Regions from separate parts of the Homo sapiens genome. Here region 1 is linked to region 2. Evidence: fine-mapped expression QTL. A gene starts in region 2. The other region holds a variant in brackets. All regions are shown on one strand. Distances are between the middles of the regions. Region 1 holds the start of LOC105373176 (a long non-coding RNA gene). Region 2 holds the start of LINC01281 (long intergenic non-protein coding RNA 1281).

Region 1 (16,963 bases), 54 kb after region 2:
CAATAAATCTGAGGCCCCCTTCCCCTGCATTTATGTACTGGAAAAGTCAAACTATAGAAGTAAGTGAAGTTTGGTTAGTATCATAGCTGGTGTCCTCAAGAAAACAGAGGCTGAGGCCAGCTTGCTGATGCTTTATGAGGCAAGTGACAGGACAGTAGGAGTGAAGGGAAAGAAGAAGTGAGGCAGGGAAAAAACGAAAATGAACACAAGGTGGTACATTTCACAAAATGCACAGCTGACCACTCAGTCATCATGGACTTCTTCAAAGAAGCTATGAAACCACTGCATTTGAAACCAGCCAATGAGAGTGAAGGGCCCTGATACCAGTCCCTTCCTACCACTTGTCTCTCTCTTGTCACAGCTCACTCCAGAGTGGTGTTAATTCCCCCACATATCCCAGCTGTGTTCCTTACCTCTCCAGGAGCTTTTAGAGAAGCCAAGTCTTCATAATTTGAAACTAGTGCTGGAGACCCTGCAGTGGGTAAGAAGAAATCAGGCTGAAGCCCAGTGAAACTAGCGAAGTGGCACTTCCCAACTGCAGAAAGCAAAGCAGTGGCTGAAGCCGCTCTGACTAGACAGCACAAGTGACCGAGAAAGAGGGGTTGGGGTAGACGGGGCCCTGCAGAACTGGGATGGTGCTTAAACCTGGTCTGGAATGATTATTGAGCACCAATTTAGAAAATCAGAAAAGAATAGTCATTAAAGATTCTCCTATCTAATCCCTATACAGCGTCAATGCCTAAAGCACCACCTTTCTTCCCCTTTTGATGCCCTAAACTATCTGATGATGCTGGAAAGTTCTAGAGTTTAACATCCAAATTACTTGCGCAGATGGTCTGTCATGTGTGGAAGTGACTCAACAATCCTTCACTGAACCACATTATCATAAGTATGAGTTTGAAGAAAATAGTCCCTTAGCCCCAGGGCAATGCATCCTTTAAGTTATCAAAGCATCGTTTGTAGACGGCCTTCATCCTCTCCTGGAATGTTAGCAGAGTGAGGCAAGCAAAGCTTGAATTAGCATGTCTGTGTTTCTGTTTGTGCTCTTGTTATCAAATATATTGTCATGAGTACATGCCTGAGCCAAGAAGCTACAGGAAGAAAGATGTAAGGAGCATAGCCAACTCACCCTAGTTATCCCAAGCAAAGCCATTCTACATCATCTGATAACCTCCCAAGCAGACCCTCAGACATATGATTGAGCCTAGCCAAGGTGAGCAGAACCATCTGGTTGCCCCACAGCTGACTGCAGCCACATGAGCAAACCCAGCTGAGACCTGCTGAGTCCTGCCCAGAGTGGCCCAGAGTGGCTGAAACTTACAGACCTGGAAATGAAATAAATGTTTATTATTATATGCCACTGAGATTTTAAGGAGGTTTTTGTTACGCAGTATTATTGTGGCAATAGCTGGCAGATATAACTCCATCCATCCCAAGTTGAAGTCTCTCTCTCTGTGAATTTCCATTGGCTGTCTCTGTATCAGATTTTCTCACTATCCTAATTCTTTCATATTCACAAGTGTCACCTCCCAGACCTAACTGGTGGACTCTTGATTGTTTAAGTTTACATTTCTGTTTCCTTACAGATTATTTAACAGCCACACTGAGCATCTAGTAGACCTTCAAAATGTTGATGTGATTTCTAAGCCCACATGGATTTCCAATGCTACCACTATTTGCTTTTCATAGTTTTACAATGTGAGAACTAGAAAAGAACTCAGAGCAAGTCCCTCCTTTTACAGATGAGAAAGCTGAGGCTTGGAGAAATTAAATTACTTTCCCACAGCCACATAGCTGGCTGGAAGCACAGCTAGACATACTGGCCAGGTTTCTTGGTTGGGATTCCAGTGTTCCTTCCCCCAGAAGTGAAGCCCTAATCAATCAGTTTCCTTAATTGACTGGCAGAGGCTGCCTGGCACCAGTGTGATGAGAAGGATTCTGAGGCTCAATCTGGACATAGTAGGAGACAGTCCCATGATCAATGAGCCAAATCTTCCAGAAGTAAGGAAGTAGACATCACTATCTCTGCCAAATCTGTTTATTGGTTAACCTGTTGGCTTATATTTATGATAAAGATGCCATTTTGTTTATTTCACTTTCATCTAGCTCCTGGTTTGAAGTACACTTTGGAAACCTCCGAAGGCTCTGGTTCATTCCTTTCTGTGTGTGTCCAAGATAAGCAATCCCTTCCCCTTGCTGCAAGGCAGCATTTTAAAAACCCTTCTTCTAGTGTTACCTTTCGAGGTAGTGAACACACATAAATGAAGCCCCAAACCAAAGGAAGGTTTCAGATCTGAAAAAATCAATGTCAAAATCTGGCATTGTACACTGACATTGAAGCAATGGGGACATCATACACTGGAGGGACAGGCTGTTGACTTTTCTGCCTTCCCTGAAAAGTTGGGTACTCCTTGCCTCAGTCAGTGTCATTCATCCCCAGGTTAAGAGGCAGGGACTGAATGCAGCACAATCAGCCTTGAACTACATTTAAGGGAGCTGGTAATCAGGCCTGCTGAGGAGCCATGGGCCTCTGGTAGGGAAATCTCATGAAAGTAGGATGAAACAGGGGCTATATTTTTATTTCTTTCACCTAAGAAAATTGAAGAATCCTTTCCTAGTGTCCTTTTTTGCATGGATCTTAACTTAATGTCACTTCCTCAGGAAAACCCTCCCCGATGGCCAAGATAGGGTCAGGAGCCCCATTGCTTGTCTTTTTTCCTTTGTGGCAAGGATATTTCATTGAATCTTAGATCCATCAATATAAGACCTCCCAATATTTTATGTACCAAGCAGGGGAAAAAATGCCACCATTTAAATTATAACTCAATGCTTTCATGCCACTTAGAATTTTTATTGTATAGTTATTAAAAGAGTACTTTAAAATGTATTTATACAGATTTGTATGATATAGCACTCTTGTGCAAAGGAAAATATACTTGAAATTAACTGGTTGAGGTAATGAGGCTTAACTTTCTTCACATGTAGAATTCAAATATTTGGAACCACTTTGTGAGTTGGTGTTGAAGCTTGTGTGCTGCCACCCAGGCTTGGTCTTTTCACTATTGCCACCACACCATCCATCACCTCTCTTTCTACCCCAAACCACCAGGATATACAAATGAGTAACACCCTAGTAAAGAGACAGTCCACACACAAAAATCAATACAATGCAAGAGCATATCTATGAAAACTATAGTAGAAGTATGCACTGCTCTGGATAAAAAAAGGGAGGAAATTTTTAATTTGATTGAAGATATCTGGAAAGTCTCGAGGGCGAGACATGGCATTCGAAGGAGGGGAGAACCTCCAAAGCTTGAGATGGAGGAGTGGCATTTCATGGGGGAGGGGAGGAATAGCATAAACCAAATGTGGTGCTCTGTAAGTAATATATTCTCACAATAATGGTTGATTCCTTTTAGTTAGAAAATAAAATGAGCAATCTGAGTTTCATTCCATGGGGAAAAGGAAGTCACTGAAAGTTCTCCAGCAAGGGAATGTCTTGCTCAGCAACACCCTTTAAAAGGGTAACTTCTTGGGAGTGAATAGGGCAGCGTGATGTGAACCAAGAAGGGCAGCAAGGAAGCAATTAGGAGGGGCATTAAGGGGCTGGGTGCAGTGGCTCTCGCCTGTAATCCTAACACTTTGGGAAGTGGAGGTGGGAGGATTGCTTGAGCCTAGGAGTTCAAGACCAGCCTGGGCAATTATAAGGAGATCCCACCTCTACAAAGAATACAAAAAAGTTATCCGGATGTGGGGGTACATGTTTGTGGTGCCAGCTACTGAGGAGGCTGAGAGAGAAAGATCGCCTGAGGAGGTTGAGGCTGCAGTGAGCCATGATCACGCCACTACACTCCAGCCTGGGTGACAGAGCAAGACCCTGTCTCAAGAAAAAAAGAGAGAGAAGTATTAAGGGCCTAATCGAGGGCAGGACTGGTAGGAATATAAACAAAGACCAATCCATTTGAGCCACATTGTGCAAGGAAAACCAAATGATTAATCACAGGGTATCAGAGGCAGGCAAAAGGACAAGAAGAGGGAGCCCACTGAACAAGTCCCACAGATGTTTAAATCCAAATGACCGGGACCACGTGGGGAAAAACAGCAGGCCCTGGCAATGTGGATCTAGGCTTAGGAGAAGGGACTAAATTTGGCAATGAACGAAATGGCCCAGGCAGAGGGCTATAGTCACAAAGAAGGTAGCTCCAGATATGAGAAAAGTGGGGGCCCTCATGCATGAGGCTTGGGTTCTTCCATCAGCCAGTAACATCACGTGCCATCAAAATCTCTCACAGAGGCACAACACACTGGAGAGCAGCCACCATCCCCGTGGTGTCCAAAGAGATCACTCTTTCTTCTGTGAGCCACTAGAGAAGGTAGTTGGCTTGCACTGTGTCAGCACTTTATATTGAAAAAAAAAACAATAATAAGCTGTGTTTAATATTAAAGTCATATGCAGTGGAAGGAGACAGTCACATCAGGAGAGATAGAAACAGAGGAGCCTAGAGAAACCAAGGGAAACTCTCCCATCCCAGGCAATCAGTGTGGAGTCACCACCATCCCCCGCCACCTAAATTGTTCTCCCTCTCACACTCACTCACATATAGCCATGGTATATGGCTGATCCCAAAAGGGCTGCTTAGCTCCAGCCATCATATCTGTATTTGCAGTCAAGATAGAAGACAGAGAGGTGATGCCAGTTCTTTTAGTTTAAGTAGCTTCAAAAGCAGAGCCCCAAACAAAAACTTTGAGTGCACATAGTTTATTTGGTAACTGATCCCTGTATGCGCAAGAGGAAGCAAGGAGAATGAGAGAGTAAAGACGAAAATGACAATATAAAGGCATATTAAAAAGGTTACTGCCTGGGGCCCTAGAGGCTCAATTGCACCCAGACCTCCTGATAACTGTACACAATGCCTCCCAGAAGTGTGCCCCCAAAGGACAGGTGGCTGGAGCATCTATCCACTAGGCCGTGTTCCCCATCGATTAAGGGTCGATCCCAAGGGCATGAATCTCACACTTCCAAGTTTTGTTTTTATGCAGGCCCAGTGGGCTTCCATAGTGTCAGAGAAGGCCCTGGAGCAGAGAGCAGAAAGATGCACAGCACATACTTGAGACTGGATGCTGTCTTGCATGAGGTGAATTGGAACACACGGAACTGTCCACCACAGCTGTGACTGAAGTCAGAGGTGATTAGACTGTGGGCATGGGACACAGGGCATGCCACCGCCATCTGCCACATCAACAGACCTCCCAGTGTCTTATTGCTGGCAGAAGGAGAGGCTGAGAAATGAACATTTTAGCTCTTCCAGCCTCTAGAATAGAAGCAGAGTGGGGAGAAAGGGATTGGAAAGGGCTGTTAGCGGAGCAAAAAATATATAAGATTTCAGATTCACTAAGGACATGTTAGATTAGATCATCTACTGTGAATGCATCATTTTATAAATGAGAAAGGAACTGAGTCCTGGGTAGAGTGAGTAACTTGCCTGCCCCAATCCTGTAGTTGGAGTAGAGCTGGGGTTTGAAGCAAGCCTTCCAGGTTTGAAGATCTTTCCACCTCTCCATAATAACCCTCTTAGGCTGCAAAAGAATGTCTTGGCTGAAAATCTGTTTAAAAAAAGAAAATAAAAAAGCTCCTGAATAACTAAGGTGGGCTCTGTTGTCACAAGACCTGGAACAATAAGCCTAGGCATTTGGACTTGGTCTGAGAGACAATGGGGAGCCATTGTCGAATCTTAAACAGGATCATGGCAATTTGAGTTGCTTGTAGGTAGATATTATATAAATATAAGGAGTTATTTCTCTGTTGATTATGGCTGCTGATTCAGCCAAGGGGAAATGGAGTTCTGGACAGGCTTGTACCTCCAGCAGTGACTGCAGGTGCTGTCAAAAGGAGGTGCAGGCTGCTGTCTGACATTCTCAAAAGGCCCCTGCTCTCCTGAGAATGGCTTGATGCTTATTGCTAATAACAAGCCTGGCAGCCAGCTGCAGCTTTCACTCAAAATTCTCTGGCTTTCAGTAATCAAAGCCAGGCCTGGGTTGTTCCTTGGCCCTAGACTGCAAAAGGAATTTCCTTTATTTTTGAACATGGAGAGAATAAAAAGAAGTACAAGTTGTTTTATAAGACAAGTAGGGCAGCAATTTGAAATAGATATTTAGGCATCTCTTAGGGATTAACATCGGGACTCATTTAAGGGCTTGGAGTGTTAATAAGGATGAGATGTATTTATTTTTCCCTGGGTTCTTTTTTAGGAATCCCTGGGCAGTGTTCTGGAATTGATCTATACTGGCTCAAATTTCACATGTCCCCCCATTTTCCATGCAGACTCTCCCACCCCTCCTTTTGACTGAGTTGTGCCTCCTATTAACTTGGAGAAAATGCCCCAACCAGGGTGCACAATTGGGCATAATTGGTACCCAGAAATACTGTTCACTGGGTTGAGGCAGCTCAGCAAACAAAATGGCCTCCTTTTACCTAGGGAATCTGGTTTGAAAATTGGACATTAAGTTACACTTCTAATTGAAATGAATTTGATGGTTTCAGAACAGTCCCCAGTGATCCCAGCCCACATCATAAAAACCACCATAGGCAAATTGGCACCATTCAGCCTTGGCTCAAACAGGCTAGGGAGTAAAAGAAGATGTAAACTGAATTTGTGGTTGCTTTTATCTTCAGATAGACAGGCTGGGGTTGGGGGAGCTTCCAGAGGGGAATTCTCGGAGTGGATTACATCATTTTCCTGACAGTCTGGGAGGCAGTGGGGTATAGAAGAAAAGCACTAGATTAAGAGTCTACCCTTGTCTCAGACAGTAATTCATGTTCATTCTTTGGTAAGTCATAACATTTTTTCATGCCTCAGTTTCCTTGTCTGCAAAATGGGAAAACTAACATCTCCTTGCCTCATGGTTGGTATTGGGCCCAGGCAATGACAGCTGAATGGTTTACCTAATGGACTGAAGAAGCCCTCAGAATCTAGGCCTTCTGATTGCTTGGCTGGTGTTCACCCCACCAGCTGACATCCAAAGGACAAGATGCTTGTCTGTCTTCCCAGGAAACTTGGCTGTGAGGTTCAATGATCTCAAAGCAAAGAACAATGACAAGACAAGAAGGGTACTAAAGGGTGGACACTGACCTGTCACCAAGGCACTCTGAGCCACCTCATTATTCACATCAGTTCCTTATTCATCTCAGGCATATCTACCTAAGCAACAACACACATGTATTTTGTACCAACTATGAAAGATGCCAGTTCTGTAATGCACATTCATGCCAGGCACCCTGCTAGGATATTCAAACCTTCCTCTCTGCAACCATGTCAGGTAGATTTTAATACTCCCATTTTATAAATAAGAAAAGTGAGGCACAGGAAGATCACACAGCTTAGCCGAGGTCACACAGCAGTATGTTATTGACTGGAAATGTCATATGCCATGGCCTGTCTTCCCACTCCACTGTGTTTTCAATCACTGTTCTAAGGGGAAAAGATAAAAATGAAGAAGACCCAATCCCCACTTTTAAGAAATTGATAGTCTAGCCACATATCTACACAGAAATATGTGTGCACAAGCAGAATAAAGGTCTGAGGGGGAGGAAAGAGAGATTATTAGTCAGCTATTGCTGCTGTAACAAACAACCCCACACCTCAATGATTAGAAAACAACAATTCTTGCTTACTTATTTTCAGGTTGGCCATGGGTCGGCTTATGTGGCATGGGTCCCACTGAGCAACTTTGGTTTTGGCTGCAGATCTGCTGGGCTTGGGTCCTTACTGTGGAATGGGTTCAGTTCAGCTAGTCATGGACCCACAAGTGAGAGTGGCCATTTACAGGGGAGAAGCTCTTCTCATGGTGCTGGCAGAGATACAAGAGGTAAAGCACAACCACATAAGCACATGGCAAGATGCTGCTTGGTTCATTTCTACTAACATCCTATTGGCTGAAGCATGTCACATGGCCATGCTCCAAAGTCAAGGGGGCAGAGCAAAGGGTAGAGAAGGATACAGAAGGGGTGAAGAATTGTGTCCAATAATCTATCCTACACCAGAAGGCTTCAGTTTTTACAGTAAAGTATCTGCATATTAATTTGAAATGATAAGCATGTATTATTTTTAAATTTAAAACTCCAATTTAAAAATACCATCAGCCTTCTCTATCCATGAGTTTCTCATTCACGGATTCAACCAACCAGGGATTGTAAATATTTTAAAATGAATTAAAAGTAACAATAGAACAATACAAATATTACAAATTAGAAAAACAATACAGTATAACAGTCATTTACAGTTGTCCCTTTGTAACCACAGGGATTGGTTCCAAGATCCCTGTGGATACCAAAAATCTCGATGTTCAAGTGCCTTATATAAAATGGTGTAGTATTTGCATATAACCTACACACATCCTCCCAGATACTTTAAATCATCTCTAGTTACTTATAATCCCTAAGATAATGTAAATATTATGTAAATAGTTGTTATAATGTATTGTTTTTAAATTTGTATTATTTTTCATTATGGTATTGTTATTTTTTACTGTTTCTTACAAATTTTTTAAAATGTATTTTTGATCCATGGATTTAACTGTGGATACGGAGGGTTGACAGTACATAGCATTTACATTGTATTAGGTATTATACATAATCTAGGGATAATTTAAAGTATATGGAGGATAAGCATAGGTTATATGCAAATACTGTACCATTTTATATAAGAGACTTGAGCATCCAAGGATTTTCCTACTTGAAGGGGACCTGCAATACATTGTAAAAACCATCTCAGGGAGGTTAGAATGAACATACCCCAAGGTAATATTTCCTAACCCATCTCCTATATGCCAATTAAAAAATTTACACACACACACACACACACAATACTACAATATAATGGTTGCTGTAACATAAATGTGTTTCCAATGCTATGAGAACCCATATGAGAGCCATTTTTCATTCATTCATTTATTCATTCAACAAATATCTATTTCATATTACTATGTGCATAGGCATTGGAAATGAAGAGAAAAACAAAATAGGACTGATCACTGTCATCGTGTAACTCAAAAGTCGAAAATAGGCTCTGAACATATACAACTGGAATGAATTAAAGGAGGGGTGGACAAAGATATGGAAACAAAAAAGATAAATAACTCATTTACATGAGGAGTATTGCAAAGGCTCCTAGGGGTTGTGTTCCAATATCCTTTCCTTAATTGACAGTCAGAAT[C/T]CTGAATTGTAGCTGAACAATGGCTACCTCAGATAATGACAACAGTTTCCAACTTTCCTTGCAGCTAGCTATGGCCATTACATTTTGGGCAATAGCTATAAGTAGAAATGGTGTATGCAACTTCCAGAAAGTGCCCTTCTTTCCCCCTTATCTTTCCTGTTGGCCAGAATATGAATGTGATAATTGGAATCAGGGTAGCTGTCTTGGACCATAAGTGACTTTGAGAATGGAGACCATAGGGGATGAAACAAGATAAAAGGAGCCTGGGTCACTGAAGACTTTTTGGAGCAAAATAGCCAAACCCACTCTGTACTGCCTACCTCTGGGCATTTGTGTGAGCAAGAAACACACCTCTATCTTGTTTAAATCATTGTTATATTGAGCTTCTGTTATTTGCAGTTAAACTCACCCTAACAGATAAAGGAGTTCAGGGGCAGACCTCCCTACAAACGTGAGAATAAGCTGATACCTGAATGGTGAGTGGATAAAAAGTGCAGGTTAATCTCTTCCAAGAAGAAAGAACAGCATATGCAAAGGCCCAGAGGTGGGAGAACACAGGAATTTAGGGCAGATACAAAGGGGAAAGAGGTAAAGGATGGCCATTATGAGCTTAGATCCCATTCAGTTACCCATACATTTGTTCCCTACACCTCTCCTTTCCCCTGTTCTCCTTCCTTTCTTCCTACTTCCCTCTCTCCCTTTATTTCTTTCCCCATCACTCCATCCCTTCTCCCTCTCCCTCTCTGCCTTCATCCCTCCTTCCCTCTCTATCTACCTTTTTCACTTTTTTTTAGAGAAATATTTATTGAGTACCCACTGTGTGCCAGGCACTGTACTAGCCACTGGATGCACACCCTCATAGAACTGACAGTCTACTAGAGGGACAGATATCAATGCGAGAGGTGGGAGTGAGAGAAAGAGCATGTGTTGACTTCCTATGGCATATATGAGGAAGCACTGTTCAGATCCCCTTTCAGGGAAAGATTTGCTGCCCAACTACGAGAATTGCAGTTAGCTGACAGCCTACAGCTGTTGGCTTCAGCAGGGTCAGCCTCAGCTTTTGAGCTGAGGTCACATTCCTCTCAGAGCGGCCCTGGGCCAGCAGCTGAGCAAGGAGGTGGTATTCTCGGCTGGCCATTTCTGCCCAACAAAGGGCTGCTCTCATGGGCACCCTTTGCTCAGAGCTGCCACTAGGCTGACAGGAACTTTTCAAATCTGCATTGCGATCTTCCTGGAGAATCCAGCCTTCCATAGGCCTCAAGGCAGGTGAGAGCTCATCATAATCACTGGAGGAACCAAAGGAAGACCTAGTCTGTCTGGAGCACAGAGAGGGAAGGGAGAGTTCTGGCAATGAGACATGAACTACAACACCATGTGTGACTTAGGAGGAACTGGGGTTTTATCCTAAGTGCATTGAAATAATGCTGAGAGGTTTTTAAAATTCACTGTAACTGCTGCATGGATTGGAGAGGCCAGAATACCAGTTATGAGAAACTGCAGTCAATCAAGGGAATAGCTGGAGGGAGCTGCTTCTAGCTTGGTGGCTGCGGGAATGAAAAGCAGTGGAAGAGATGTCCTGGGAGTTTGTGGAGGGAGAATGAGCAGTACTTAGTAGTGACAGATTAGATCTTGGAGGGAGGAGGGTGATAGGAAGAAAAGTATCAAAGGCAAGCAACTGAGTAGAGGGATTTGCCCTTTCCTGAGATGATAACAGTTGCGAGAAAAGTAACAAATTCAGTGGTGAAAATCAAGAGCCGAATTGTGGCCATGTGGGTTTTGAGACTGTTGGATACACAAACCTGGAGTTGAAGACTGGTCTGGCCAGGAGATAAAAGGGAAGTTATCAACATGCCCAGGGTACTAGACGCCCCGGGAGCATATTAGGAAGCTTAAGGAACTGCCCCCTTCCCTCCAGGCCATCTTCTATTTCTTCTTACTTCTATGCTCCCAAAAGCGTCTTCTTCTTTTTTTTTTTTCTTTTTTTCTTTTCTTTTTTTTTTCTTTTTTAGACAGAGTCTCTCTCTGTTGCCCAGACTGGAGGGCAGTGGTGCAATCATGGCTCACTACAGCCTTAAATTCCTGGACTCAAGTGGTCCTCCTGCCTCAGCTGAGAACCTGGAACTACAGGCTCATGGCACCACTCCAAGCTCATTTTTAAATTTTTTGTAGAGATGGGGTCTCACTCTGTTGCCCAGGCTGATCTTGAACTTCTGGCCTCAAGCAATCGTCCTGCCTCAACCTCCTAAAGTGCTAGGATTACAGGGAGGAGCCACCGCACCCAGCCCCCAAAGCTTCTAAAGCCTTATTTCATTCCAGGGAATCTTCTCAGGTGGAGAGGAGACAGGGTGCTGAGAGAGGTCCTTGTACTCCCTACTCCCATCCTTAGCTTTGCCCTTCAACCAAAATACACTTTTGTATGGTGAGCCTTTTGAGTAATTGGTGCATTCTACCACCCTTACAGATAAGACTCTCTCTGTCCTTAGGATCAACTGCTTCCGAGGAGGAAGGTGTGCCTGCTCCAGGACAGCCCAGGGACTTCGGAGGGTTGCCCTTCTGCCTGCCTAACCCTAAAGTGCTCCCCATAAAACACTCTGCCTGCTAATATCTAGACTGCACATCACAGATATGCAGTAAACGTGTGTTGAATGTATGAGGTCATTTTATTATTTGGTTGCCCGATCAGTGTGTCTGTCATAAAGCCCATCTCTTCGATTTTGCCTTTCAGCATAGATGAAAACAAGCTGGCCATTATTTTCCAGGCAAGCACTTGTCAAATAAATGTTCCTCATAGAGATGTAGCTTGCTGCAGAGTGAAAAGCGTGGGAAGAGAGCCCCATCTTTCTCATCTGTATAAAACAGGATGACAATCCCCACACCACACACTTTACAACTGAGTTGGTATGAAGAGCTAACAAAAGTCCTCAGCCTAACAGTGCTTTGGGCTTTACAGAGAGACAGTGGGCTGATACACCATTGAGTTCTATTCCAACCCAAGTCTGATTCGTTGAGTGGAATAATCCCAGTTCCCCTCATTTTTCCTTAGATATGACACTTTGCAGCAAAACATTTGATGCCTGCAGGCTTTGGGAACTGGCAGTGATTCACAGACAGCAAGCAGGATGCTGGACATTGGTCAAACTTTGGCCCTGCACACCTTCTCCCACTACCAGTTATGCTGGTGAGGAATTTCCTCTTTCCCATTGTGTTATGTGGGTGGGTGGGATGGTACCTAAGGGGCCTCGCCACTCCCCATGGAAGCCAAAGAGTGTTCTCCTTCACTACCCTCATCCAGCAAAGGGCAGCTATGTGACCTCATCTTCTGAGAGGATCTTGAGCAGTGAGCAGAGTGACACACAGCCAGAAGAGGGTTTGCAGGACACTCCTTTGCCCCAAGAGCATTGTCCTGCACCAGCCTCTATAGTGCCTGCCACACAGCTGGGTTCCCACCCGGTGTTCCTGCCTCCCTGTCATTTATCTAAGCTCCCAATATCATCCTTTAACAGTCCCTTTTGCCCAAGGTAGCCAAGAGGCAGTTTCTGTCACTTTTGCCCCCCAAATTTCAAACAGATACAGGCAATTTCTGAAAGGGGCACTATGTTATCATCAATATCCAGCATCGCTGAAGAGGAGGATTAATTAGTGACAACCCTCTTACTTCACCTATCATTGGGGCGGTCCACAGAGGATTTATCCCTGAACCACTAATGAATTTTCCAACTGTCACAAAACAATGCAAATAAGTAAGATCCACATCTGCTGAACACCATCATGAGGTCAAACTGTGGGTAAATAAATACTTGCTTCAAGGAGAGGGTAAATCCTAAGGTGAGGAGTGACAGGGCTTTGTTTGCATAAACCCAGCAAGGTATTATGGGTAGGATATTAATTAAATCATGCTCCTGGGCCTCACGGATCCCCAGCTCCACGGCTTCAGCTTGTTGACAAACCGAACACAGGGCCCCCAGAGAGACCACTAACATTTTGATGAACAGGATTTGTTGGGGGTGATGTTTCCTAACTAGCGTTTTAATATAATTTTTGACGCTTCATCTGAGCAACCTGGAAAGAATATGCAGTTAAAAGAAACGGACAAACGTCAAATTTACAAGAGAAGAAACTACCATCTAATGTTAGTCCACTGGAATTACTTCCTGGGAATAATGTCTTGCTACCTTCACCCCACCCCAGGCCTTCCTGAGACCTCCTTTTTTACCCCTCTCCCTAAACCTGGGAGAACATCTCTGAATAACATCAAGGCTGCCTCAAGTTTAAATGAACTTTTAATGAGTTTTATAATCTTCCCAAGACCCTGTAAGTCTTTCCTTTTTGTTCTTCTTTCCTTTTTGAAGAAATTAACATGATGGCAGGTACTGTCTTCAGGGAAAGGGCTTTTATTTTCAGGTTAAAATAAAAGACCTCATCTCAGCTGGAATGGAAGATTGGTGATGAAAAGACCCTCTGTGGCCACCAGAAGTACCCGCTGTCCGAGAGATGCTGACCAAGAACGTTCAAGCTCCTTGTAATTGGTCTACCATCCCAACCATTCCCATCTTCATTTGCACTACACGGCCTCTTTCAGCTCAAAATTTCATGCTTCGTTTGAAGATTATAAAGCCTCTTTTATCTGAGAATATGCAGACAAATATGAACTAATTAATGTTCCTACCAGCCCCCTGGGAGTGTGCAATTGTCCTATGACCCACTAGCTTCCTGGGCATTCCCTGACGTTACACTGCTGCCCAGTATCAGGCATCTTTGCTAGTCCTCCCTCCCCTCACCACCCCCAATCAGCAACTGTCAACCCTGTTTCCTCCAAAATACCATTAGAATCTCCCCACTTCACACCATCTCTGCCTATTTCCAGCTGGTTGCTTGCATTGACTATGGAAACAGACCTCTCACTTCTTCTCTTGCCCCTTCCAATCTAATTACCCAATTCTCTGCCCAACAGGCAGAGGGAAATTACTAAGACATAAATCTGAAGAAATCCCTTTTTACCTGCAATGAGTCTCTCACCTAAAGCCCCTCCCTACTATTCCCATCCTCCCCTGCCTGACTTTTGGTTTCTCAAACATACCAAGATCTTTCCTGCCTCAAAACCTTTGCACATGCAGTTCCCTTTTCTAACACTTGGACAGGAAGGTAACCAATTATGGATGATGTTCTCCATGAGCTAAAGTCTAAAGACTTGTTTTAAGTCTCTGAGTTTTAAGGTAGTTTCTTATGCAGCTTTGTTGTGGCAACAACAGCATCAAACACTCCTTCTAATAAGAGCACGTGGATTTTATTTTAGAGATCTACCTCATCCACCCTTCATCCTCATGATTCTGGTGAGGATGACCCCACTCCTGGAGTGCAGGGTTGGGGCTCATCCTCCAGACGTAGCCAATCAGAGCATTCTATCCCTCTAGCCAGAAGAGCTGGGTCAGACTCTATATGTGACCCAAGCTAGGTCAACAAGATATATAATCCTGGAAATTTCCCTAGAAACGATTAGAAAGAAGAAAAAGTCTTTCTAACAGAGTTTCTGTGCTCCTAGGTGAGAAGACTACAGCTGTCACCGGGAAGAAAGAGCCTGCCTAAAAATCAGAGGGCAACGAAACTGAAAGGAAAGACACAGAAGTCTAATGGCATCAACTGAGTGCCTGGGCCCAGCTATTCCTGATGATTTACTCCTGGAGTTTCCGACTTTATACACCGACACATTCTCTTTTTTCTTAAGTTATTTAGACGCGGTTTTCAAGTCACTTGTGACTTCAAAACTCCTGACTTTTACAAGTTCCTGCTTGCCTCTAGTCCAGCCCCGACATTGTACTCCTGTCTTCAACTGTGTGTACCCTAAGTCCTTGCCTTAATTTTCTACCTATTTCTCTTGTGCTTCCAAGTCTGTAGCCTTATCTTTAGGGCCAGCCTATCCCTTCCCTCTTTCTAGAAATCAAATAGGAGGCAACAGCACCTTTCAGAAAACAAGAATGGAATCTCAAAGTCCCAACCTCTTTATACTTTTCCCATGATCAGTCTGCAACATTAAGACAAGGGAAAGTTTGAGCAAGGCAAATGGCATGATCTGGACGTGGCAGGAAAAAAATGGGACAGACTCCGTTCCAGTGCTTTGAAAATCTGTTGGTTGTAAGATCTGGAGAAGGAACTCAAGTTCCAATAAATGTCACTGAACAAATTGTACGATGTATGGAGCTGCCTAATGTTTCATCTGTTTGGATGAAATGGTTGTCTTTAAATAAGCTAGGTGCAAAGTTTCTAATAACCACTGTTTTTCAGCATGTCTCAGAGCTCATGTTGTTAATCAAGCAAGGTTAGCTTATTTTTATTGAGTAAAGGATGTGTTAAGAAAGGAATGGTTTTGCATTTTAAGCAAAATGGATGAATAATGAATGAATTTTAAGTAAATAAATAAAACCTTTAAGTGACTGTTTCTCTTTCAGAGAAGTCATTGATGGAAGCTATGTACTGATTATGATGATGCTGTCATTACTCTCAACATTCCTTCAATTCCTACTGTGAAAGGCAACCCTCTTTAGGTTGTACAAATTCTAGTTTGGTGGCTAATTAAGCCATGATACTAGTTTGAGATTTTTTAAAATCTTCATTCTCATCTCTCCCTCTCCTAGTGTTTGAGGACTGATCATTCCTGATCTTAGTAACAGAGTAATTCATGTTGGCAGGTGTCATTTAAGCCCTCGTAGCTTGTAACTTCCTGACACAATTTGGAGTTAGCCCATTCTGGCATTCTCCTGCTGGATATCACCTACATTCTTAAATCTTAATGATGTAAAATTATTCTACATTTTTAATGATCCGTTGGAGCTGTTTCCTCCAAACCATTAGCAATACAAGAGGTATATAGGAATTTGACTTATTTACAAACTCTGTACTATTCTTTCTAAACAGTTTCCAAGGAATACAAATGCACTACATATTGGTTACTAAAAACTGTTTGGGAATTGGATTCTTTAAATATTATGAAGAAATAGCTGATTTTCTGCAAGTTTGACTTTTTCTCAAAATGAAAGCATGTGCACACACACACAGAGGTGCAAAAGCTCCCCATCAGACAGATGCAAGGCACCACTCCATTAAGGCAGGCAGTGACTTGCTAATGATCTATATCAGCCCTCACCTATATGGTACCTACTAGCCACATTTGTGACTATCTAAATTTAAGCTTACATGAATTCAAATTGAATACAATTGAAAATTCACTTCCTCAGCCTCACTAGGCACATTTCAAGTGTTCAATAGCCATGTGTGATGAGTGGCTACTATCCTGGACAGCACAGACATCAAACGTTTCCATCATCTCAGAAAGTTCTATTAGATAAGGCTGAGAGGGAAAGAGCACAATCTGCCTTTGTCACTTAGTAAATGACTTGGGCAAGTTTCTTTACCTCTCTGAGCTCCCTTTTCCTTAGCTGTATGATGAGGATAATCATAGCTGTCTCACAATGGTTTTGTGTGAGAGAATTTAGGGAGCCCGTGTGTGTAGAAATGCCAAAGACAGGCCAGTGCTCTACTCCTTGCTTCCTGGGCTCCCCAAAAGGGAGCTGACTCCTCATCCCTCAACCTGGAGAACCAGTTCAGCTCTTCTTTTCACCAGAATCCTTTCCCTGCTTCCGACTCATCTTCTTTTTCTCAAAGCTGTTGTAACTGTATTGTTCTCACCTGCTTTGCCCAAGACAGATTCCCCAGTCCTCCCCATCAGTGTTTGGCATTTATTCTGGGTGTTCTACTAG
Region 2 (16,963 bases):
AACATCTCCTTCTCAAGCCTTCACAGAAGTCGGTTGAATCTGAAACTCTTAGCAGGTCCCTGAACCACACAGCTAAAAAATTACATGCCATGCACATCTGCAGTGAGGAACGTGAGGCTTTCTAGGGGAGATTTATTGCCTCCCTTCCCTCCACCTCTTGGAAGGTTTCTGGATGCTGTTCCTTGTGTATAGCATGTGCCTCCGGCTTATCACTACAGTAAGTATAAAAGCAATTAATTTTTCCCCCTTTTGGAAAGTGGAAGTTTTAACCGCACTTGAATACCATTTGCATTTCTGATTTCTATCAAGTTCACACTTCCAGCAAAGAGAGTCCTGCTGATATAATTTTTTTATTGCATATTCTCTAGTAGGAAGCTGCTTCTTTTGCCTCTAAAGCAGAAAACATGTACACATTGGGAGGTGCTCAGCTCTTGACCTCTTCTTCAGGTTAAATCACCTTATTGGTATTAGGGAGGCGAGGACAGGTGGGGAAACTTGGAGCAGGGCCCTTCTGCATTTTTATATAGATGCTCACATATGCTGAGCTTGTGAAAATTAGTTGCCCGATTTGAGTGAGGTGGGCAGGTTTCAAAAGCCATCTCTTTGTACCTGGTTGTAATTTGCTCATACATTCAGAGAAATTTTATTAAGACATACCAGATTTATTTCTTGGTTTTTTTCACTGGTTTATATCCTTTTACACTGTTCTGCTTCTACATCATTATTTAGACCTACAGAATATTTAGGTTATGAGGGGCCCAAGGAACCATGTGATCTGCTGATCTTCTCATGTTATAAGTGAGGAGACTATGGTAGGTCGAATAAATGGTCCTGATGCTTCTTCACCCCAACCTGCAGTCGCATCATGGTCATGGCATATCATGGGTGGAGCATACTTTCTACCTCTTGATTTGGGGCCAACTGACTTGCTTTGGCCAGTGGAGTGGGACTTATGCTAGTTCTAAGCCTAGGCCTTAACAGGTCTCACATATTTCCACTTCCTCCTGATACCTCTGCTGTTGCAGAGAACATGCCTGTTGTCTTAGTCCATTTGTACTGCTATAACAGAATACCTCAGAAATTTATTTATTTCATAGTTCTGGAGGCTGGAAGTCCAAGATCAAGGCACTGACACCTGGGTGAGGGCCTTCTTGCTGCTTCTTCATGTGGCAGAAGGTGGGAGGGCAAGACAGATGAACTCTGTGCCCTCACATGGCAGAAGAGCAGAAGAGAGTGAACCCACTCCTACAAGCATTATCAGCATTAATTCATTCATGAGAGCAGAGCCTTCATAATCTAAACACCTTCCAAGAGGCCCCACCTCCCAACACTGTTGCATTGGAGATTAAATTTCAAACATATGAATTTTGGAGGAGACAAAACCATTCAAACCATAACAGCTGTCTAGCCCACTAGCATGTGGAGCAGAGTTAGCCCATCCAAGCCCCAGTCCTGTGATATGAAGCAGAACCACTACAGTCTGAAGCATTGCTGCTAAGCTGAGCCCAGACTAGATTGGCCAAACCCCAGCCGACCCGCAGATCTGTGATACTAATTGTTATTGTTGTATGCTACTAAGACTGTGGGTATTTTTACATGCAATAGCTAACCAATACAGACACTGAAGTTCAGAGGGGAAAGGTGGCCCTGTCATCGTCACACAGCTGGCTTGTGTCAAAGGCAAGATTAGAACCCATGCCCTCTGCTCTTAGCCCTGTAGGAGTTACCCCAGGATTTTCACACACATGTGAAAGATGCTGTTTGGTCGTAGGTCTTGCAGCTTTTGGAAAATGTAGTTTGTAACAAATCGTTGAGAGAAAACAGATGAAACTTTACATGGCTCCAGGGATTAATAATGTAACAGGGATTGTTCCACTTCTGGTTTGAAGTGAATCTGAACTGGCTGTTCCACCCTGTCTCCTCCTCGTCTCTGACAGCTGTGGAGCTCCCCAGGAGGAAGGGTTTAATGGCTTGGGAGCTGCTCCAAATAGCATCTGCAAGAACCAGATCTTGAGCAGCCCTGGAGACCAACAATGACTGGAGCTGAGATTTGGCCCTTTTCTAGACAAGCAGGAAGCCCAAGCCCCAACCTCAGCACTCCCAGACCCAGGCCAGCCTATGTGAGAAACACAAGGAAGACCCTAGAAAGATAAGCTGTCCCCACATCCCAACTCTTTCCCTACAAATGTTGAAATCCCATGTTTAGAACTTTATTTCCTTATGCTCATTAGCCCTGAGATGCTAGTATGTGATGGCATGCACTTAGAGAAGAAGTCACACTTGCTCTTATATTAGCCATTTATACCTCCCTGCAAATAATGATCCCACCCCATTTTCCAGGAGTTACCACCTACTGACCTGTCTCACCTTGGCCTGCAGAGAAGAAATACCTGTCATAATTAGAGTGGCTGGCAGAACTTCTGTGTATTACATTTTCTTACCAGTGGCTGCATAGCTGCTTGCTTCCTGGCATAACTCTGGAGCTTTTATCATACTAAAGGACTCTTTCTTTTCACCATCTTTAAAGCACTCTGTCTTGATATGGGCTTTGGCTCCAGATGGAGGGTGGGTATGAGAAATGGGGAAAAGAAAATCTCAGGATTCCATATAATTATATGTCTGATATTCTATCAATATCTTCCTCCATTCTATGTTATAAGTTCAAGGAAGGGAGAGATTACATCTCTCTCATTCTCTCATATACCTAGTTCATATCACAGTACCAGGCACATAAGGAGCATCAGTAAATATTATACAAGTGAATGAATGAATGCTTGAACAAATGAACACAGCTGTTCTGGTGATAACCCACAGATGACATCTTTGCACACCCAGCCTGCCACAGTTCAGCATGTCAGACCTGGGCCTGTGGGCCCTTTGGCATCTGGTTGAGGCCCCTCTGCTGCTCCCTATGGCACCATGCCACACTAAGCTTGTCTCAACACATCAGTCACTGCTGAGCTGACATCTCTATCAAACAGGCCTCTCATGACTAGAAGATACAGGGAAGAGGATGGAAACTGTGGCAGCCAGGGCAAGTGATCAAACTCTGCTGCCCAGTCCCAACCCTGAATCCGCTGCCAGGAGATGGTGAGCTGGCAGCATCTGCTGCTGTCTGGGACCAAGGCTGTTCATCTAGTGCCTGGTGCCAGCTGGGCAGCAGAGCAAAGTCACCATGCATAGAGGAGTCCAGACTGGCAGGTGCCACCAACTGCCTATGAAAAGGAGGAGAGTCTGACAGGAAGTGTCTGATGAGGTGTTCATGTGGCCTTTATCCTCACTCACTGCCATGAGAGGTTATCCTCACTCATGCCTGAGTTCAGTTCAGAGGGAGCAAGAGAAAAAAAAAAATCCTGTTTTCCCCTGCGTGCTTCTAATTTCTCTAGTCCACGTATACTGCTTAAGTGTGGGTTACCCTGAAAGCAGACTCTAAGATAAGGAATGGGTTCAGGCAGTTTATTTGGGAGATGATCCCACAAAGCATGGATGAGGGAGCAGGGAAGGGAGGAAAGCCAGTTTAGTGTGTGCTAATGAGCTGTGGATGCTTGCTGGAGATCGGTCCTGCTGAGAACCCTCTGAGAAACCAGGTGGAGTACACCTCAGGGAATGGGAGGCTGGGTATTTATCCAACAACTTCCTGCACCCCATTGCTTGAGGATTGACCTCTGGGACATTAACTCCCTTACATTTCCAAAGTCGTGCCTGTGCTGAGCTAAGAAGACTCCCAGGGTGCTGGAACAAATCATCAGGCAGAGAAGCTGAGAGGTACAGGTCCTTGCAGAGGGAGAGCTGTAGTGTGCTCTAGAATTGTCCACCTCAACTGCAATGAAGTCAGGTAGGTCTAGACAGTATGGGTGGGCTATCACCAGGGTCTGCATATTTTGCTTACAAATGTTCTAGAGCTAGAAAACATGGGTCCCAGGCCTCTTCCATGTAGCTGAGAGGTCTTAGCCAAGTAAGCTCCCCCTCAGCCTTGACTATTCCATCCAGAAATACATATATATTAGATTTTGTCCATCTAACTTTGAGGGACTGTTATGGGAACCAAATTAAATCAGAGAATCAAATATGAATTATTTCATTAACATAAAATCCTCTTCCTTTAATTAACTTACCCAAAAAGCTATATTGTTCACCTGTCAGTAGGTTAAATATGAAGAGTTTCCAAGGATACGAGTTGTCAAAGATACTTTAAGAAACTGAGGGTAAAATTCAGTTTCAGATAAGAATGTGTCAATGAGTCAATCTGCAGTGGGTTCCAGATATTTCTCTATATACATTTGGCCACATGGAAAGGAAGACTGTCATTACCTCATTCAAAGAATTCTTCCCAGATTTGGCTGGCCCTGCTTCAGCTTGAGTTATTATCCTCCCCTTCATGCAATCTCCTTCCCCACAAATTCTCCTGTTTCTCAGGGTGATGCTAAGAACTTCTCTGCCTCCTCGGTTCCCCGTTATATTAGTTGAGGCAATGCTGACAGCTATAACTTATGAACATCCACAAACTCAAGGGCTTATGACAACAAAAATTGTTTTACTATCACTCACATGACAATCCAGCCTGGGTGATCCTAGTTGGGCAGAACCCCTCCATACAATGATCCAAGAACCCAAGCACTTTCCATCTTGTGGCTTTGCCATCTTCAACACAAGGCTCTCAAAGTTGCCATCTTCCATACAAGGCTCTCAAAGTTGCTTTGAAGTTGTTCTCTATTTGCAGCCAATTGGAGAGGGAAAAAAAACGGAAGATGGAATGGAAGGTTTTCAACAATCCAAGTCTGGAAGTATTGCACGTCACCACTTGCACCCATGTTCTTTCGGCCTGAACTCAGTTAACATGGCCAAAACTAACCACAAGAGAAGCTGAGAATTATGGTCTACCCGAGTGCCCAGAAAGAAGAGAAAATGGCTTCAGTGGTCAGATAACAATTGCCAACATAGCTTTGATATTTATCTGATCAAAAAAGAGCTAGATCAGGTGGGAGTTCAGCAGACCAGGAGTCATTGCCAGGAAGCAAGTCAAGTCCAGGGAAGTCAGATGAGGCAAGTGATGAGAGCCAAGCAGAGATCATGGTTGAAGAAGCCAGCACTGTAGCTTTATCTTACTCATTGGTGCCTATATACCCACCAACTTACCACCCAGAAATGCTTAATTTTCCTCAAAACACTATAAACTTCCAGGTCTTTGCTCTTATTTCTTCTCCTGACTGGAGCCTCTTTCAACTTCATCTAGCTGATCAATCATATGATAGCTCCAAGGAACCATATTAATGCACTTACTTCTGGCATTAATGCCCTTCTGTAATCTCCCCTTGAATCTGGGCCGGTCTCCTACGATTACCTTTAAGTGACACTTGAATAGCTACAGGCCTAATATTTAAGAAGACTTGGCAGCTTTTGTTTTTCTGTTCTTGGGAGCCTGATTCACTGTCTAAGAAATCCAGCTGACTCTGTAAGAGAAAACACGTGAAAAAAACTATGTGGACAGAGGCCCAAGACTACTTGGAGAGAAAGAAAATCTCAGCTGAATTCAGCCATCAGCCAAACTGCCTGCTGAATTCAATCATAAAAGTGATTACCAGCAAAGCTAGCAGAAGAGTCACCTAGCTGATCCCAGCCCAGATTGCAGAATCACGAGCAAAATAAAACGTTGTTTGAAGATAAGTACTGGAGTGGTTTTAGGCAGCACTGGATACCTGCTGGATACCTGGTTCAATGTCTATCAAGTTTCATGCCAGCCTCTGCCTCTTCTTAGATGCATTTTCCTTATTTCTCTCTCTACTTTCTCTAACACTTCCCTCTTAGCATGGTTAAGAATCTGACTTTTTAGATGCACTTCCACAGAATCCTACACACATATCTCTTCTACCGTTTCTCACTCAGTATCATATAATTTACTTTCTTGTCCCTCTACCTTTAAGGGCTGTGCACTTTTTGAAAACTGGAACCAAATCTTATTCCTTTCTGTGTTGTTTGTGCCTAATACAGTGTCTTCTCAGACAAGTAGGTGCTCAAAAGTGATTCTTAAATAATAAATCACTGTTTCTTAATTTGTTCATGAACTTGAATATAAGTGGTGTCTAAGAGAAAGAGAGACCAAGGGAATAAGAAGGTGTGCCTTCAACCCAAAAATTCATAAAGGAAATTCAGAACAGGTCCGTGTGAGAGAATTGTGCTGGATAACTGGATTCACTTTTCTCAAACTCCAGTTGAACCACTTTCTATTTGGGTATATTGGAAAGCTAAAAACTACATATTGGGAGAAAAGCGAATCCTTACACACTGTTGGTGGAAATGTAAATTAGTACAGTATTATGGAAAACAGTATGGAGGTTCCTCAAAAAATTAAAACTATAATTGCCATATGATCCAGCAATCCCACTGCTGGGTATATATCCAAAGGAAATGAAATCAGTATATCAAAGAGATGTCTGCATTTCCATGTTCATTGCAGTGCTATTCACAATAGCCATATATGGAATCAGCCCAAGTGTCCAACAACAGATGAATGGATAAAGGAAATGTGGTATATATTCACAATGGAATACTATTCAGTCATAAAAAAAGAATAAAATTGTCATTTTCGACAATGTGAATGGATGAACCTGGAAGCCATATGTTAAGTGAAATAAACCAGGCACAGAAAAACAATACATGATCTCACTTATACGAACAATCTTAAAATTTTTTGATCTCGTAGAAACAGTGAATAGAACAGTGGTTACCGGAGATTGAAGAGTATGGGGGAAGAGGGGATAAGAAGAGGCTGATCAATGGGTAAAAAGATGCATCTAGAAAGAAAGAACAAGTGCTAGTGTCCTATTATACAGTAGGGTGACTATAGTCAACAATAAGGTATTGTATATCTCAAAATAGGTAGAAGAGCAGTTTTATATGTTTCCACCACAAAGAAATGATAAATGTTTGAGGTAATGGATATGCTAATTGTTCTGATTTGCTCATTACAAGATGCATACATTTATCAAAACATCACACAATACCGCATAAATTTGTACAATTATTATGTGTCAATTAAAAATGTAAAACAAAATAAACCATATTTTGAACATTACTTTAGAACTAGAGTTCTGCCCATTTGATATAATTCTGAGAGATTTGGAAGGTGAAAGGGAGGTGTAGGTCATCTTTCCAAGGCAATTCAGGTGGCCAAGTAGGCTCTGGCCACATGAATCCTGTCAGTAACTGGACACCATAGTCTGCTGTGTGGTCAGCAGCTTTATGGATGCAGGTGGCTGTGGAGGCAGTGAGAGTAAGTTTCCTGACATCTGGGTTATAGCTGTATGGAAAAAGTGCTGCAAGGGCATGGGACACTGGAAAATACCATTGGCTTTGGTCCAATGATTGCTGACAGGCCTGGTGGTCAAGAGCAAGAGAAGATTCCAATAATTGGGAGACATTATTTCCTCATGTGCCAAGGATACCTAATCAGAGGATGTCTCTGGGAGCTTCCTGAGAACAGGGACCACATGGCTGAAATCCAACATTTCGATTCAACATACCATCTGGAGGAGCTGGGCAGCATGAATACAAGATCAGCATCGGGGGCAGGGAGATTCTGTATCTTGTCTAGAGTCTGTGAAAAGAATCCAAGCTAAAACTCAAAAGATGGGGTACTGTGGGGTGAGTCTCAACACCATACAGTCAACCACATTTTATAACATGGTGTTGATAAGGCTCTGAGTGAGGCAATGTTGATTTGTCAATGATGTATATTTTCCCAGAGGCCAGAACATAAATTAAAATTTACTCTACTTTCCTGACAAAAGAAAATTTTAAAACACCGAACCCTTCCTGCAAGGGACATCTCTATGTAAATGATGGAAACAAGATCGCATAATGGTTTGGAGCAAGGACTTTCACATCAAGAAGACCCGGGTTTGAGTCTCAACTCTATCACTTTCCAGTTGTTTAATGTAAAATGAGTTAATTATCCTCACTGAGGCCCTATTTTTTAGTTTGAAAACCCTCATATGTTGCTGTGATGATTAAATTAAATGTTGCCTTTGAAAGCACATAACACAATGCCTGGCAAACAGTAAGTGCTTAAAAAATGATGGCCACTAACCCAGTGGATTGTGAGAAATAATCAAAAGCCAGTCTAGGGTAATTTACTCACATGGAATCTATTGTTAGCATTTGAAAATTCTTTGAATGATAAAAAAGAGACATAAAATTAAGATATTATTTATAAATATATTTATATTCATAATATAATACTAAATAGAAAAAAATGACATTTTCTGTAACTGACAATGATAAAATATTCATTTTAATATTTAATTATTAAAGGTTTACAATATGCCAAGTGTTGTGAAGCACCTTATATGCACTAAATTATTTAATATTCTGAAAAATCCTATAAGTTAGATACTATTATTACTCTCATCTTACAGATGAGGAAACTCAGGGCACAGAAAGACTAAGGAACTTACCCAAGGTCACACAGCTAGTAGGGTGCTGAGTTCAAATTTATCCCCAGCTGCTCTAACTAATCAGCAATTAACCACTACCATAAAATGCCTCTCATTTGCAGAATATTTTAGGAGAGTTGCAAGATCAGAACTTATTTGTAAGCAGGAATTGTTCTGTTATTAAAAAACTTACAACAGAGACTAGAAAAAGAAATATATTGCTCATGTGAGTAAATATTTACATACACCAAAATATTTATGTTCATATATGTGAGTACTGCTTTCCACAGGGGGAGAGGAAAACGTGTAAATATTTACTCACTGGAAATAGCTGACAAGTAGTTAGGAAATAAGAATATTTATACTGTACATTGGTTTTGTGCTGTCAAATTGTTTCATCTGGAGTCTATGCACTAATTCCCAAATTGGACATGCAATACAAGAATCCTGAAATTGTAAATTCAGAGCTCCATTTGGAGTTACCTAACTTGGTTGTGAGACTAATTTCAAAACAAAGTTAATTCTGATTTTTCTAAATCATATTTTCTAAAAATGTACACTGCTTTTTAAGATGTCCTGATTCTTTCTAGGAGAAATTATCCTTAGGCTAAAAATCAAAGGCCCTGTCTTTATGCCCTGAGCCCCATGCTGTGGGTTCTTGCTAGGAGACATACTCTGGGGACCACTCCTGGGCCAATAGTTAGAAGTGGTTGGGAAGCAGGTCAAATAGTTAATAGGCCAGACAATGGCCCAGATTGCTAGTGACTCCCAGACAGCCAAAGATAGAAAAATTTTCAAATAAAAAAATTACATAAGTAGTTGGGATTTTGAGAGATATTATAATGAAATAGAATTCAAATAAATGAATAAATATATATTATGGACCTAGTGTACTGGCTTTGGACTGACACTTTCACATGCCACTGTGTTTAGTCCTTACTGCAGCAGATAACTTTTGTATCAGTTGGATAACCTTTAACTGCAAATAACAAAAAATCTCAGTGCAACTGATTCAAACAAAGGATTTACTCCCTCATGTAATAAGGAGGTCTAAAATGTGGATGCTCTAGGATTGGTTAATTCAGTGATTCACCTCAGTCATCTAGGTCTTATGCTCTTTCTATCTTTCCCTCTGCATTCTTGGTATATTATTTTGTCCTTGGCAAAATCGCCTCATGGTCGCAAGACGGCTGCTGGAGTTCTGGAATTCATTTGCAGATATTATAAGGTGTAATAGAAAAAGTAGAGTTTTTATCTCAATACATCTCTCTTTATCATCCAAATCTTTCCCAGAAGGCTTCCAAAGCCTTCCCCTCCCAGAGCACTGGCCAGAATTAAATTACACACCCATGAGTAACCAATCACTACCAAAGGGAGTGGGACCATCATACTTAACTTAGGCGAATCATTTCTTGTAAATTTGAGAATTAGGGCATAGACTCCAGTTCTCTGGCTCGTGAGGCCAAGACTACAGCCTGCTTCCTTTGAAGCATGTGGCCTCACTGAACAAGGAGGATTCCTGAATGACATTGAGGTTTTGTAAAAAAGGATAAAGAAGGTAAAAAGTTACCGGGTAGGCAACAGGGTCCACTGCATCCCATTTGAAACGTGGGGAAAACGAAGCTCAGAGAGGTTGTGACGTGCATTTAATAAATGCTACAGCTGCAATCCAAATCCAGAGTCTTTTTCTGTCAATACCATGGCTGCCTTAAGTATCTCCAACTGCTGTTGCTTTTATGTTACTGGAACAGTTGGGTGCGTGGGCACAACTGATGTTTTCCACTGAGCTCCCTTCTCTATTTCCTGTCTAGACGATTGTGAAAGGGCTGCTTGTGTGAATTTAATTCACTCATAGGCATTACCCACCTGCCACGGGCTACAAACCTCATTCCTCCCTCCTTCTCCAGCAATATTGTCAAGAGGCCACACTTTCCCTAGCTTGGAGATCTGCCCAGAGGAGCATCTCTGGACCTAGGCGGGAGGAGTGAAAAGCCAGGGAAAGGACTATGGCTCCTTGGCCAGCACTATTTTTGCTGCAGGTGCCTGAGCTTGTCCCACACTCTGTCTCCACCATGCTTAGATTCTGGCTTCCCAGTGCTCAGTTCCTCCAGCTTGGGTTGTATATTGCCTGTCATCCAGCTCCCTGCCCCTCTGGCCCCTGCAAAATATATGCTCCTCTTTCCTTATGATGATGTCTTCAGTATCTCTGCATTTCTGGAGCCTTCCCTGTCTCTTTGACATAGACCAGGGTGCTCCTCTTTTCAGTTTCCTTTGCCTTTAGAACATTCCTCCCCTCCCACTTAGGGTATTGTCTTATATCAGGTTGTCATATATTAGTTTGTTTCCACATTATATTGTATTTCCTGGGGATGAATCTACATCTCTTCATCTTGGCTCAGTCGGCCCCAGTGAAGATCAAAATATCTTTAGCATAGTGGCAACCATCTTCCTTGCAAGGTCTATACACATAAGTTTTTACACAGTTTTTGTGAGACTTTTAATAAGTTTTTGTTTATTAGCTAATGAAGGAAGAAGGAGATTTATTCATGTTTGTTTGCTTTGTTTATGTGTTTGGTTTGTTTGCTTGTTTGTTCATTTTTAATGCTAAAACAGTAGGAGAAGAGAGAGAAGAGAGATAAGAGAGTAGAGAAGGGGCACCATGGCAGAGGCCACTGGTCACCTGCTTAAATACCCTAAATATTTTCCCCTTCTTTCTTATTAATGGAACCTTCATTTTGTTCATGGTGGCCCAACTAGAAGTCTATATTTTGCAGCTACCTTCAGCTAAAGGTAGCTACATGCTACAGCTCTGGCCACTGAAATATAAGTAGAAGTTAGTATATGGGCTTTCAAGAAAGCTTGCATGGTAGAATCTTTTGTGCACGACCCAGATCTCTCTTGTTGATCCGAAAAGGTCTCCGTGATAAATCTCCCACATGCTAATGTCCATCTAAGAGTCTGAATTCTGGGCAGCCCAGCCCATGACAGCTCCTTAAAAAGGGAGACTCAGCCAATTGATATTTTTTGATCTTTGACCTTCTTTTTCCTACCTTGTACAAAACATTATAAAGAGGGCAGAGAGCCATCTTGTGACCGTGAAACAACAAGCATAAAGTTGAAAGCCACCCATTCAGGACAGCCAAATGAAAGCATGAAGAATCCCCCTGTCTTGGTGGCATTGTAGAACCATGGTACAGTCCTAGACTGACTGACTACCCCTGAATTTCGCGGTCTGTGAAAAATAGAAGCAAATCACAATTTGACTAAGCCACTGTTATATGCAATAAAACCTATTTCTACCTGAAACAGCTACCAATAGCACCTGAAGGACAGTTTTGAGCCCTTGTTAAAGAGAGAGTCACTCGCTTAGTAGTCAACAAACAGTCAATATGTCTCTTCTATTATCTTCAGCTCTGTGCCAAGCATTGGGGAAATAGCATTAAACAAGACAGGCAAGGTCCCTGCTCTCATAGAGTTTACATTTGCATAAAGAGAGACAGAGAAATATGTAAACAAAATGAATAGACAAGGTAATTGCAGAAAGTGATACAGGCTATGAAGGAAATAATCACTGTTTTTTGCTAATGTATAACTTGGGTGGGGGTAAGGGTCTGCTTTTAAAAAGGTGGTCAGAGAAAGGCTATCTGAGAAAGCAAAGGCGACATGATCTTTAAAGACTGAGTAGAAGGGAGAGGTGTGAAGATAGGGGAAGAGAACAGAAAGGCACTGGGGAGGGTGGACCAGTGTCTGAAGAACAGATAGGAGCAAGGTGTGCCTCAGTCTTGGTGAGCACAAGGAAGTACACAGGCGTAGATCACATAGGGCATTGCAGAGCAAGGCAGTGTGCTCAAATTCCAGTACTATTATAATGGTGCACCGCTGAAGCAACAGCCTGCGGGATGTTCCATTTTGGCTGCTGTGAAGAATCGGCTATAGTGGTGGCAAGAGTAGCAGTGGAGAGGCCATTTAGGAAAACAGGTGAGGGAGGATGGAGGTTTGGAATAAGACTGTAGCAGTGGAAATGGAAAGAAGTAGATGGATTTGAGATTTTGGAGGTAAGTCCAAAAGGACTTACTTCTGGACTGGATGTAGGGAATGGGGCAAAAGATTAAAAAATGATTTCTAGATTTTTGGCTTTAGCATCTGGAAGAAAGTGAGGCCATTTACCAAGATGACAAAAATTTAAAGGGAATACATATGTGATGAGGACAATTAAGAATTAAGAATTCCATTTTTTTTCTATGCTAAGTTTGAGATGTCTGTTAGAAATTAAAGAAGAGATGTTAACTGATATTGGGGTGGTGAAAATGTGTCACTTAGATCTCTTGCTGCATGAAGCAAAGTTGATTGATGGTCCCACCTTCTACATTGCACACTGAGGCCACATTTGCCACAGGCTGCTCCCAGGCAGTGACTGAAGACACCAGGGATACTAAAGCAGGTCCACTCCTGCAGGACATGGGGACTCCTCTGACAGGCAACCTTGGCTCAAGGACTCTTCATCAGCCTGGCTGGACATTTTCTGGAATTCTGCTACAGTCCAAGACTTTTTCTACCCAAGTCCCCTTCCTTCACTCTCCTTCCACAGGTGTCAGACCTGCATTGCTCTCTGGAGGCTCCACCTGCTCTAGCTCCCTACCTGCTGTTTTACTTGACAGGATTTTCCTCCAATAAATCTCTTGCACTTGTAATCCAGTCTGTTTTTTGGAGGACCCAAATGAACAAAACTAAGCAGGTTATCTATAAGCTTGGAGGGGTCTGTGCTGGAAATGTAAATCTGGAATATAGATGCTTCAGTATTCAAAGTCATGAGACTGTATGCGATCACCTAGGAGTGTAGGTATAGATAAAGAAAAGATGACTGTGAGACTAAACCTTGGAGTTATCTTTGTAGAAGTTGAGTAGAAGACAAAGAGCAAAATTTGTGTCATGAAAAATGAGGTATGGAAGTATTTTAAGAAGCAGGGAGGGCCAGGCATGGTGGCTGGTGCCTGTAATCCAAGCTACTTGGGAGGCTGAGGCAGGAAGATCGCTTGAGGCCAAGAGTTCAATACCAGCCTGGGAAACAGTGAGACCCTGTCTTTACAAAAAACAAAAACAAAATTAATTAGCCAGGTGTGGTGATTTGCACCAGTAGTCCCCGCTACTTGGGAGACTGAGGTGGGAGGATTGCTGGAACCCAGGAGATTGAGCTGGCTGCTGTGACCTGTGATTGTGCCACCATACCCCAGCTTGGGTGACAGAGCAAGACCCTGTCTCAAAAAAATTTTAAATTTAAAAGAGAAGAAGAAGCAGGGAGGGCCAACTGTGTCAATTGCTTCTGCGAGAACCAGCACAATGAGGGATAAGGAGAGTGTCCATTGGATTTGGTAACTTGGTAACTTGGAAATCAGAGCATGTAAATTTGTTGGGTTAGTGTTGAAAATATGGAGGCTTCATGTCATTATTTCCACTTTGTTAACAAAGAATGACATGAGAGCATAAGCTTTTGAGTAAGGAGTTGGGGAAATGTACGTTTGAAGAAAGAGAAGAAAGTGTGAAGTAGGTTTATCAGAGGGCAAATTTAACAAGCTTCCTAAGAAGGCTTGCCATGTGGTTAGAATGCTATTTCGAGGTTTGTGGTTATATATTTAAAGTGCAATCAGTTAGACCATTTGGGTAAAGGTCAACATGGAAAAGGCTGATTTCATTATAAAAGCATGTGAGACAGAGACAAGTGGAACTTTCCAGGACCCAAGGGATAAAAAGCCACCCAAGTTTGGAGAGGAAGTCATTCTTTCCCCATATCTTTTCACTCTAGATCTCAATGCAACTTTGGCACTCTAGCACTTCAGGGTTGGCACTGCCGGAAAGAACTGATGTGTGGTGGAACTGTGAGTATGACCATAGTCCCCAGGGGAACCACATCTTCTCAGCAGCGTTGGAGCAGGGTCCATGAAGAAGAGTCATCTCCTGAATGGTTGACTGGTTGTGGTTCTCCTCTAAGATGCCAAAGTTACAAAACCTGAGTGGACTTCTTCTCACAGTCAAAGCTTTCTCTGAGCAGTCTCAGAAAAACCTGGAGGAAACTTTATCATCCTGTAGCCTTTTCGGTAGAAACAACATGCTGTTGCAACTTAAATACTATGATGGTTAATTGTATGTGTCAACTTGGCTGGATCACAGTGCCCAGATATTTGGTCAAACATTATTCTGGTTGCTTCTGTGAGGGTGTTTTTGGATGAGATTAACATTTGAATGGGTGGGCTTTGAATAAAGCAGATGACCCTCCCTCATATGGGTGGGCCTTATCCAATCAGCTGATGGTTTGAATAGAGCAAAAATCTGACCTTCTCTGACCAAGAGGGAATTCTGTCAGAACACTAGCTTTTTCCTGGGCCTTCAGCCTCTGCTAACCTATCCTGCAGATTTTGGACTTTCCAGCTTCCATAATTGTGTGAGCTAATGCCTTAAAATAAATCTCTCTCTATCTCTGTCTCTGTATCTCTGTCTCCCTCTCTCCCCCCGCCAACACACACCCACCCACACCCACACACATCCCATTGATTCTGGTTCTCTAGAGAACCCTAACACAGATATAAATTCTAGTATGACTTATGTCTTGTCCAATAGTACTGCTATAAAAGGAATACCCGAGGCTGGGCAATGTATAAAGAAAATAAGTTTATTTGGCTCACAGTTATTCATGCTGTACAAGAAACATGGCACCAGCATGTGTTTCTGGTGAGGGCTTCAGGAAGCTTCCACTAATGGCAGAAGGCAAAGGGGAGCTGGTGTGTGCAGATCAATTGTGAGAGAGGAGGCAAGAGAGAGAGAGAGGAGGAGGAGGAATCAGGCTTTTTTTTTTTTTTTTTTTTTTTTTTTTTTAACAATCAGCTCTCACAGGAACTAGAACAAGAACTCACTCATTACCATGAGGGATCTGTCCCTGTGACCCAAACACCTCTCACCAGGTCCCACCTCCAACATTGGGGATCACATTTCAACATAAGTTTTAGAAGGTCAAATAACCAAACCATAGCACCTCATTTGCCCTCAAAGCCTGTGGAGGTCTAAATACTAAAGTTACATTTTTTATATCCAGAACCTGAAGCATTATCACATAAAAGTAGTCTAATTAGTGTTTGTTGAATAGATGAACAGATAGATGGATGAATAAGTAAGCAGAAGGAAGGAAGAGTAGATGGATGGATGGATGGATGGATGGATGGATGGATGGATGGATGGATAACTGAATAGATAATTGGATGATACCGTGGTGGAAAGAGCACTGAGCTTGGAGTCAGATGTTTTGCATTTAATTCCCAATATTGCCGCTTCTTAGTTTTGTGACCTTGAATATTTCTTTATTATTGAAATGGGAATAATAATAAATAACAATACTTGACTTATCAATCCCATAGGAACCTTGTGGCAATTAAGTTATTTGGAATGAAATGCCCCCAAAAGCTAATGCTACCCTAGATTGCATTCATAAACATACAGTACTCATATCAAAGCTCCAATAGTCCCACAGTGCTCTGCAGCATTGAGACAAGTTGAAGTATCTATTGTATGTCTTGAGAACTGATGTTGTTTTAGAAACTATGAAGCACTCCATACCTCCAAAGCACTTTTATTATCACCTTTATTTTTTCACAGTCTCTGATCCCATTTTTTAATTCTTTCTTTACATTTCTGAAAATTTGAGGACTTTCCTTGCTACCTGCCTTCCTGCTGAAGAAGCTAGACTTTTTGGACCAAATCTGTGGTACGCTTGGCTTTTTATTATTCTTAATAAAAAGAGGAGTTTATTGGTTTACATATATCAGAAATATAAAGCTTTGCTTGTAGCTAAGAGTTCAGATTCCAACTCTGTCTCCTTTTCTCCATCTCATTTTGCTTTCCTTGGCATTAGCTTCATTCTCAGGCATTCTTTTTCCATGTGGAAAGATAGTGTGCTGGCCTTCTGTCGCCTGCAGTGTTCTTTGAGTCTAGCTCTATTTCTGATCCAACTCTCTTTTCTTAAGATACTCCCTCACCCCAAAACAAACATATGTATATTCAGCCAATCTCGTCTTCTTGCTTCATCTTCTGATTGGGACTCAGACCAGCATCCAGCAGAACTAATAGAATTTCTTCTACCAAACTGCCTTGGGATAAAGAATGCAGTTAACTCACTGGGACTCCAGATTGGTTGGCTGCAGAAAGCTCTATGATTTAAAAAAGAATCATGATGTATTGAATTCTCGACTTTCTGAAAAAAAAAATACTCCTAGGCTGTCAGGGGGCAGAAATACACTGGGGACACTGGGTTCCATTTTCAAAACTCAGCTGTGTTTTGCATCGAGACAATTCAGTCCAAAAGGCTCTCTGAAGCTACTCTGAAAGTGAGAAGCCTCAATAGCCATTGAAATGGGCTAAACGCGTCTGATTTAATTAAATCATAGAGCAGTCCCACTCCAGAGCAATATAATTATATTTGTCCATTTATATAACTGTCGACTGCTTTCCTTCTGTCCAGAAAAATGGGATTGGGCCTCTTGTAATAT

The links. PIP is the estimated chance that this variant, and not a neighbour inherited with it, causes the effect.
Region 1: its variant is the best candidate, but not a certain one, in a credible set for the expression of LINC01281 in whole blood (TOPMed, PIP 0.56).

Annotation. Positions count from the first base shown.
Region 1 is chrX:39,371,379-39,388,341 of GRCh38, forward strand. It overlaps LINC01282 (long intergenic non-protein coding RNA 1282), which reads right to left. Exons shown (of 6, transcript NR_110385.1): 2 at 7,673-7,848; 3 at 5,484-5,604; 4 at 5,109-5,312. LOC105373176 (a long non-coding RNA gene) reads left to right here and starts at 12,275. Exons shown (of 2, transcript XR_949023.2): 1 at 12,275-12,390; 2 at 14,752-15,641. The variant C/T (reference allele first, on the strand shown) is at 9,213.
Region 2 is chrX:39,317,221-39,334,183 of GRCh38, forward strand. It overlaps LINC01281 (long intergenic non-protein coding RNA 1281), which reads right to left and starts at 10,142. Exons shown (of 4, transcript NR_038968.1): 1 at 10,003-10,142; 2 at 4,549-4,710.